Linked DNA regions of Homo sapiens: region 2 is linked to region 1. The links come from fine-mapping of genetic effects on gene expression. A gene starts in region 1. The other region holds a variant in brackets. All regions are shown on one strand. Distances are from middle to middle.

Region 1 (4,399 bases):
ATTCATATTACAAAGTTATATTTCTTGAGAAATAGCAATTTAAAGATTTCAAAATATAATATTGACCTGTTCAAGTTTGGGCTGTTTCTTATCTCAGTTTTCAAATAAGATGGAAATTTGCCTTTTTACATATAGGCCAGATATTGACTGCGCTTTTACAGGAACTTCTCAGAAACAAAAGACCTCAAAGATATTGATATTTCAGAATGTAATCTGTTATGGTTATGATTATTTTCTCCATTTTTAAAAAATTTGTGATCAGCAATTCTAATGTTGATATAATGTTGCCAGTATTCCAGTTGGGACCAATTCAAAGAATTATAGCAACTCCTCAATTGCTATTTTAAGAACAGACATAATGTAGCCCAATCATCTCACTTTACTGACGTTATCTGAAGTCCAGGGAGAAGTTATGCAAGTTAATCAATATCATCCTTATCTAGATGGGGGAGATATAAGAGCCAGAACCCAGGTCTCCCAAGTGCTGAGAAAAAACCCAAATATTAGTAATTATTAATAGTTTAAGGATTAATAGTTTAAGGACACACATTATTAATAGTTTAAGGATGAAGTTAAATTTCTTAGACCTTTCACAACACACGTTGAGCAGACAGGAAATACCACTAGAAGACTTTATAAAGTATTTCTCAGCAGATCCTTGCTAATTTCGCCAGCCAGCATCATCGTCCTGGCCCATGTGCCACCCATTATTCCAGTGAGGCCAGAGGGAAAATCGCTGCTCTAGGTTTATGAAAAAGGACAAAGTTTTCCTTTCTGAAATTTCTCTCTGGAGACCCAGATTTTAAAATGAATAGTAGCTAGTACCGGCACCTTTGTTTAAACCACGTTATGCCACCAGAAAAAAACATCTGGGGGCATAATAAACTCACGGGCCCTTTTCTTTTGTTACTTTCCTCTAGTACTCCGTCTCGTCAAGGATCACATTAAAAGTTCTTTTGAACCGCTATGCCCTGAGTGTCTAGGAAACACATTTCACGTTCCACAGGGGTATGAACTAAGAAATACCTTAGCAGGAAAGTAAGAGGTACACCGGGCTAGGTCTTTGGTGGAACACCTGCGCAGAGGTTCTTGGAGACATTAGGACACCCTAGTTAGTTTCCTCCATTCTGTAAAAGGCCCTCTGGATATTCATTTCAAGCCAAATTATGAAACTTGTGCCTGGTGTCCAAATCTATCTTTATGGTATTTTAAAATGAAAATGAGAATATTCGGGGGAAAAAGTTATTTTTAAAAAGAGGAAAGAGTTGTCCAAAAGTTTTAGAGGAAGGAAACACTCTAAGATGCATCAGACTGCGAGCCACACTCAAATTCTCACACGGCTGGCATTTAATCCACATCTAATCTTGGCCCCTCAAGAATCCCTCCAGGTTCCGGGAGACTGGGGCTCCCGGACCTGCTGACCTGCTGACCTGCTGACCTGCTGGACGTGCAAGGGTTCATAGCAGTTCCCCGTTTGACCTTGCAGCAATTTCCTGGGCAGGAAATCTGTCAAATCTGTTGCAATAGCTCGGGAAAAAGCAAACCCGAACCCCAAACCCTCACACCCCCACCCTCGCGAGCCGGGTCCAGAGTGGAGATCAGCGGAGGGGACCCTGGGGACCCGCTGCGCTCGAGGGCCACGCCTGGGGGCACGCGTTCACGAGGCCAGATCCTGGAGCTGCCCCCGGCGTCGGACCCGACGGGCTTGACAAACGGGTTCCTGACAGCCCCGAGGGGCCCGTGCTGGCGCTCCCAGGGCTCCCGGGACTGGGAGCGCCACTTACCTCGACTGCTCTGCGGGGCGCTGCGGGGCGCGGGAAGGCGGCGAGACTCCGGCCGGGAAAGCGACGCGCGGTGCAGACTGCCGCACCCGGGCTCCAGGTCGCTGCCCCGGGGAGGAAGTGCTGTCAGCCCTGCCCTTCCCACGCAGCGCGCAGACGTGTGGCGCTATCCGAGCTGCTTTGCTCCGAGGTGCAAGGAAGGCCCCTGGTTAGAGACAGTGGGACAGACAAACATATGCGTAAAGGACTCCGAGTTAGGGGCTGCTTTCTCCAACTCATCGAGTCTGCGCCTGATTTTCTCTCCCCCATCCCACCCCTACTACACAACCACCTTGAAGGGATTTTTATTTTATTTTATTTTATTTTATTTTAATTCTGGGAAACGTTGCGCCTCCCCCTACCTGTGCCGCGCGCGCCCTTCTCTCAGGAGCGTCTCCTGGCGAATGGAACCATTTTGCAGCCTCGACGCAAGAGGGACTAAGGGATTGGGGCCTAGTGATGGTTCCACCAAAGACTGAGAGGCCGCTTTATGTTGCAACGGTCTCCCAAAGTGTTTACTTCAGCACTTTCTGGGCTTCCTCTTTTGGGCCGGTTGTGCAAGGCTTCCCGGCCGCCTGCAGCCCGCCCTCAGGGGACGCGGTGCAGGGCTGGACTGGCAACACGCGCGTCCCGGCCGGAGTTCAGCTGTCTCTCGGGTGGGGGTGGAGGAAGGGCGCGCTGGGCGGAGGCCCTTTCTCAACCATCAGGTTGGTAACCTCACCCTCCTCCCTCCCCACGTTTAACCACGCTCAGTTGGCCGGCCAGGGTGTAGAGGAATAGCACTGTCTTCATTGCTCGTAGAAATCCAAAATGGTCTGAACCCCGTGGAAGAGAATTGAGCAATATCTATTTAACTTATGTATGGATTCGCCTTTTGACCCCGTCATCCCACTTCCAGGAGTGTGTTACGAAGATCTGCTGATGAAAATAAGTAATGCACACGGCAGAGGGCATTCATGGACTCACTATTTGCAACAGCATAGGACTGGCTGGAAATAGCACCTGTCAGTTGGGAGTGGAGTTTCCTGAGAGAAAGTCGCTGGGGAGGTCTGAAAATACAGAAGTTAAAATCAGTTATGATTTGTAAATGCGGTTGAATAACCCTCCCCTTCTCCTCTACAGCTGTGTCTTCAAAGGCTTATATGTCAGGGAAGGTGGTGAAGACATAAAGACAGAAATTAGGTGCATGTGTTAATTAGGCAATTTCAAATAGTTCTGTCATTTATTTAATGAGAAACTATTCGTAAGCACCAACACTTCTAAGAACAATGAAAATAGTTAGAGGAAACAATTTCTGCTCTCATGCATGGTGCATTCTAGTTGGTAGAAAGCAGACAATAAACAAATTAATATTTAACATGTCAAGGAATGTAACTAGTTTTGAAGGAAGTTAAAAGGTGAGGGATAGAGAGTGATGGGCATGGGGATGGGGTTGCTGTATTAATTAGGGTAAATAAACGATAAATAAATAGAAAATATATTTTCTCCTCATGATTTTCTTAATAACAGTTTCTTTTCTCTAGCTTTCTTTATTGTAAAAATACAGTATTTATCTAAATACATATAACATAATATGTGTTAATTGACTGTTTAATATTATCAGTAAGGCTTCTGGTCAACAGTAGGCTATTCGTGGTTAAGTTTTGGGGGAGTCAAAAGACATACATGGATTTTCAATTGTGCAGCAGTTTGGTACTCCTGAAATCTGGCATTGTTCTGTTACAGTAGGTAGCTAGTCAGGCATGAGCAGGGCAGGAGAGGGCTCCTCCCACCCCCTACCAGGAATGTCAGGTGACCATCAGGTGATGATCAAGCAGTTGTTATCAGCCTTACTGATAACATAGTCGATTAACTCATATTATTTTATATATATTAAATACTGTATTTTTATAATAAAGTAAGCCAGAGAAAAGAAACTGTTATTAATAAAATCATAAGGAAGAGAAAATGTATTTTTCATTTATTTATTTATTATTTATTTATCCTAATTTTTTTTAATATAGCACCAGGGAAAGGCAGTCTCCCAATAGACAGAAACACCTGAAACTGGTATTTCTGTCTGATAAGTGACACTTGAGCTAGATCTAAATGGCATGAGAGATTAATCCACACTGGGTTTTTAGATGGGAATATTCCAGGCAAAAGGAACAGCACATTCAAAGACCCTGAGTTAGGAGAGCACTTAAGATATTGGAAAAACACCAAGGAAATTAGTACGGCTGAGCAGAGTGAGATGGGAGGGACAGACATGAGATGGGATCAAAAGGAAATGGTGCCCAGATTGTGTGCTATTTGGGAGCTGTGGAAGAGAATTTGATGTGAGTGAGATGGAAAGCCAGTGGAAGGTTCTGAGCAGAGTTGTAAGTGCTACATAAAATATAAAATCAAACAATGAGAGTGACTTTCTTGGGGCAGGGAAAGTGGTCAAGGATCACCTCTTTACAAAGTAATGAGAAGGGGCAGCCATTCAGAAACTTGGGAAAGGATTCCAAGAGAAGGAAGAACAAGAAGAGGGGCTGAGATAGGAACATAGAAAGTTCAAAAGAAGGCAGGCCAGTGTGCCTGGAATGTTCTGAAAG
Region 2 (4,399 bases), 100 kb before region 1:
AATGTAAATCGGCCAGGAGTGGTGGCTGATGCCTGCAACCCCAGCACTTTGGGATGCCAAGGTAGGTGGATTGCCTGAGCCCAGGAGTTTGAGACCAGCCTGGGTAATATGGTAAAGCCCTATCTTAACTAAAAATACAAAAATTAGCTGGTGTGGTGGTGCACACCTCTAGTCCCAGATACTTGAGAGGCTAAGGCAGGAGGATTGCTTGAGCCTGGGGGGCTGAGGCTGCAGTGGGCTATGATTGAGCCACTGCACTCCACCCTGGGTGACAGAGTGAGACTCGGTCTCAAAAAAATGTAAACCATATCTAACATTTGATAATACCTATTGCCTTTTGACAATATACACCTGAAGTTTCATGACCCAGTAATTAAAACAACTTTTTTTTGGCTATTTTCTATAAGTTGTCTAGGAAATCTTGCAAGTTTCTAATTTCTAAAATCTTCTTATGGTGGAATGAGCCCAATAAGAACTGAAAACTTTTTTTAGTCTTATCGATAACATTATAAATTAATTTGTTTAAAATGTGGAACTTTCATTTTCAGAAGTGAAGAAATCCCCAGACAGAGTTACCTTAAAGTTTTAGGTTCAGATAGGAGGCTTTGGGGAAAATGTCCCAAATTGATAGAAATGTTTCCCTCATTCCTATTTTGGTTAAACAATTTCTTATTGTTACACATATGGCTAACTATAATTTAACATTTTCTTCCTTGAAAAAAAATTAACTCAAATTGCTTATAAATCTAAATGAATGACTTCTTATAACATACCTTTAAAACAAAGCAATAGTCAGTGGGCGCTTTATATTTCATTTTATGCTGAGTCCCATAGTAAATGTTGACATTTTCAAACTGTATAAAACACGCCAGATCTCGAGATGTCTGAAAGACAGGGAAAAAAATAAAACTTCAACTGAGATGACAGTTAACAATTTTCCAGAGTTGTCCTTCATAGCACAACTAAGGATTATATTTTAGTAAAGAAAATATTGACTTTTAGGTAATTTATATAAACATCTGCCATGTATAGGTTTTCTCAAAGGCAAGTCTGAAAGGTTGGAATGGAAACTGATATGGCCAAGTTGGGGGACAATTTAGTAAGATCTATACATAAATCTTTCCCAATATGAAAGATATTGAATGTTCCCAACACAAAGAAATGATAAATGTTTGAGATGATGGATGTGCTAATTACCTTGATCTGATCACCATACATTATATGTATCAAAACATCACTATGTACGTTATGCATATGTACAATTATTATTTGTCAATCAAAAAATAAAATTAATTTTTTAAAAAGAGTGCAGCCATGAAAATCGGTGCCACTGACCCAGAAACGGAGTGAAAGATTATACTGCTGTTCTAATGCCTGTCTGGGGACTCCCAGAGTCAGGATGGACTGTCCTTGAGATGTCATTATTGATGCAGTCGAGACAAGGTGACCGCTTAGCCAGAAATTTCATTTTGACTTTTGCCATTCTAAGTCCGTGATGGATTTTGCGATTGAGCATTAAAAAAAAAAAAAAGTCCCCCTCAGGACGAAAAATGAGAGATAAACTTATGCTCAGTAAATCAGCACACACTTCATGCACTTCCTCCTGAGAAAAAGGATTTCTTTCACAAGTTCTCTTTACTGCAGGCAGTGTTGCCATGGAAACAGAGACCTCTCCTCCACGGATAACAGGCACTGTGAAGACTGCAGCCTGTAATCTACATATTTGGTTACACTTCAATTACAAATGTGTTCCATTAGTTTTTTGTTTCGCTTTCTATATTTCTTTACTAGTTAGTGAATAAAGAATAGATGGCAGAACTATTTACACCTTAGTGCACAATTATTTCTTTACATATGCTTGTATTCTTTTCTTACAAGATATTTTCTTCTGGATGTTCAAAGTTTACATTTTTAAGTTACAAACGAATGCATATTAGTCACATTTAAAATATATATATATATAAATAATAAAATGCACATCTTCCTCCACCACCCCTTTTTCTTATTTTGTTCTTTTCTCCAAAGGTACCATAGTTAATAGTTTGGTAGTATTCTATTCTGTTCTATCCCATGACGTTGCCCAGGCTGGTCTTGAATTCCTGAGCTCAAGCGATCCGCCTTCCTTGGCCTTCCAAACTGTTGGGATTAGAGGAGTGAGCCACCGCCCCTCGCCTTCTTTTTCTTAACATTGCATCTAGGAGTCTTTCTACATCAAGACATGAATTAATATATGACATTCATTTTATGGCTGCAGAGAATTCTACGGTACAGGTGTAACGATTTATTTAACTATTCTACTACAGATGATTAGAAGTTATTTCAATATTTAGCTATTACAAAAAATACTGTGCATGTGAGCTTATATTTTTGTGAGATAGATTCGTCAAGCATGGAGTTGCCATTTGAAAGGATTTTTACTCCCTGTTACATGTACATAGATTTTGCTAAATTGTCCCCCAGTTTGGCCGTATGAGTTTCTATTCCAAGCTCCCAGGC[G/A]TGAGTGTCTCTTTTTCTTACCCACTTCCACCAAAATTTGGATATTATCTATATTGTTTATTTTATCAATCTCATGCTTAATTTTCATTTCCCTGATCAGTAATGAGACGGAGCAACTTTTAGTTATGCGGTGGTTACCGGTACTTCTTTTTCTGTAAATTTTCCCTTTAAAAGCTTTGCCATTTTTCTGTATGTTTATCTTTTTCTTATTGATTTCTTGAAGTCTTTATATTTTATGGATATTCATACTTGTTTATACATGTTGCAAATGTACTCTCTCACTGTAGTCAGTCTTTCACTTCTTGTTTGTTATCTTTGGCCATAAGGTATTAAAAATAACTTTATCAGGTCAAATCTGGCCATTTTTCTCCGTTATAATTTTGAGTTTTTATTCTTGCTTAGGAAACCTTTCTCCAGCTCAAAATTATAAAAACATTAACCTATATTTTCTTTTTTTTCTCCCTTTCTTCCTTCCTTCCTTCCCTCCCTTCCTCCCTTTCTTCCTTTCTTCCTTTCTTCCTTCCTTCACTCTCTCTCTTTCTTTCCTTCTTTTTTTTTTTTTCAGGATCTCATATTGTCACTTCAGCTGGAGTGCAGTGGCACGAACATGGCTCACTGAAGTCTTGACCTCCCGGGCTCAAATGATCCTCCCGGATCAGCCTCCCAAGTAGCTGGGACTACAGGCATGTGCCACCATCCCCACTAATTTTTTTATTCCTTTTGTACAGACAGGGTCTCCCTATGTTTCTCAGGCTGGTCTTGAACTCTTGGGCTCAAGCTATCCTCCCACCTGGTCCTCCCAGAGTTCTGGAATTAGAGGCATGAGCCACCGCACCCAGCCAGCCTCTGTTTTCTTCTAGGATTTTATACTATTTTTCTCTAAAGATATTTTAATCAATCAAGAATTTAGTTTGGTACATGGAATGAGGTAGGAAATTATATTTCTAAATGGATATACAGTTATTTCAGTTCTATTTGTTGAATACCACATTCTTTCCCCACTGCTGTGATATAAATTCCAACTTTAACTTCTCTGATATTAGACGGTTGTCTGTCGACCTGTTTGTCTCTAGCTGTGCTGTTTTTATCTAATGTTTTGGCACAGCAGGAGATCTACCTTGATGTTCTTCACAATTTTGGGAAGGTCTATTTTGGAACAGTGTCTTTTTTCCATGAAATCAGTCTGTGAATTTCAAGTAAATAAAATCCTACTGATATTTTTATTAAAATTATATTAAATTTATAGAAAACTGGGAAGAATTAATAACTTTTCTTTTAGCAACATGGTACCTTTCTTTTCTTTATCTTCTACTTTTTTTTTTTTTTTTGAGATGGAATCTCACTTTGTCGCCCCAGGCTGGAGTGCAGTGGCATGATCTTGGCTCACTGCAACCTCCGCCTCCTGGGTTCAAGCAATTCTTCTGCCTCAGCCTCCCGAGTAGCTGGGATTACAGGCGCCCGCCACCACGCCTGGCTAATTTTTGCATTTTTAGTAGAGATGGGGTTTCACCATGTTGGACAGGCTGGTCTCAAACTCCTGACCTCGTGATTCGCCCGCCTCGGCCTCCCAAAGTGCTGGGATTACAGGCATGAGCCACCGCACCTGGCCTGCAACATGGTACCTTTCTATTGATTCAGTTCTACTTCATTTCTTTTAATACATTTTATATTTTATGCCATATGAATCTGGAACATTTCTTGCTGAGTTTATTGTTAGGTATTTTGCATTTTCTGTTTCTAGTCTGCATGGATTCTTTTGCATTATGGTTTGCATTATATATATTGTTTGTGTAAAGAAAAACTTTCTTAGTTAATACATTTATTTGGTTCTAACAGTTTTTCAGTTGAGTGTCTCATATTGCTGGATAGACAACACTGTGAAAAATCAGTCTTTGCCTCTTCT

Alleles and levels. Alleles are on the strand shown, and positions count from the first base shown. SD is a standard deviation of normalised expression in the study named.
For the expression in lung of the gene that starts at base 2,297 in region 1, allele G in region 2 goes with a higher level than allele A (small effect, 0.11 SD a copy in GTEx).

Evidence for each region. PIP is the estimated chance that this variant, and not a neighbour inherited with it, causes the effect. A credible set is the group of variants that fine-mapping cannot tell apart.
Region 2: its variant is the best candidate, but not a certain one, in a credible set for the expression of APBB1IP in lung (GTEx, PIP 0.53).

Annotation. Positions count from the first base shown.
Region 1 is chr10:26,436,239-26,440,637 of GRCh38, reverse strand. APBB1IP (amyloid beta precursor protein binding family B member 1 interacting protein) reads right to left here and starts at 2,297. Exons shown (of 15, transcript NM_019043.4): 1 at 2,183-2,297; 2 at 1,785-1,986. RefSeq lists enhancers at 1,964-2,043, 2,604-2,733, 2,451-2,980.
Region 2 is chr10:26,538,067-26,542,465 of GRCh38, reverse strand. It overlaps APBB1IP (amyloid beta precursor protein binding family B member 1 interacting protein), which reads right to left. Exons shown (of 15, transcript NM_019043.4): 11 at 774-884. Among named protein-coding and RNA genes, the nearest start is that of LINC03028, 39 kb to the left of the region's middle. RefSeq lists an enhancer at 1,646-1,715. The variant G/A (reference allele first, on the strand shown) is at 2,497.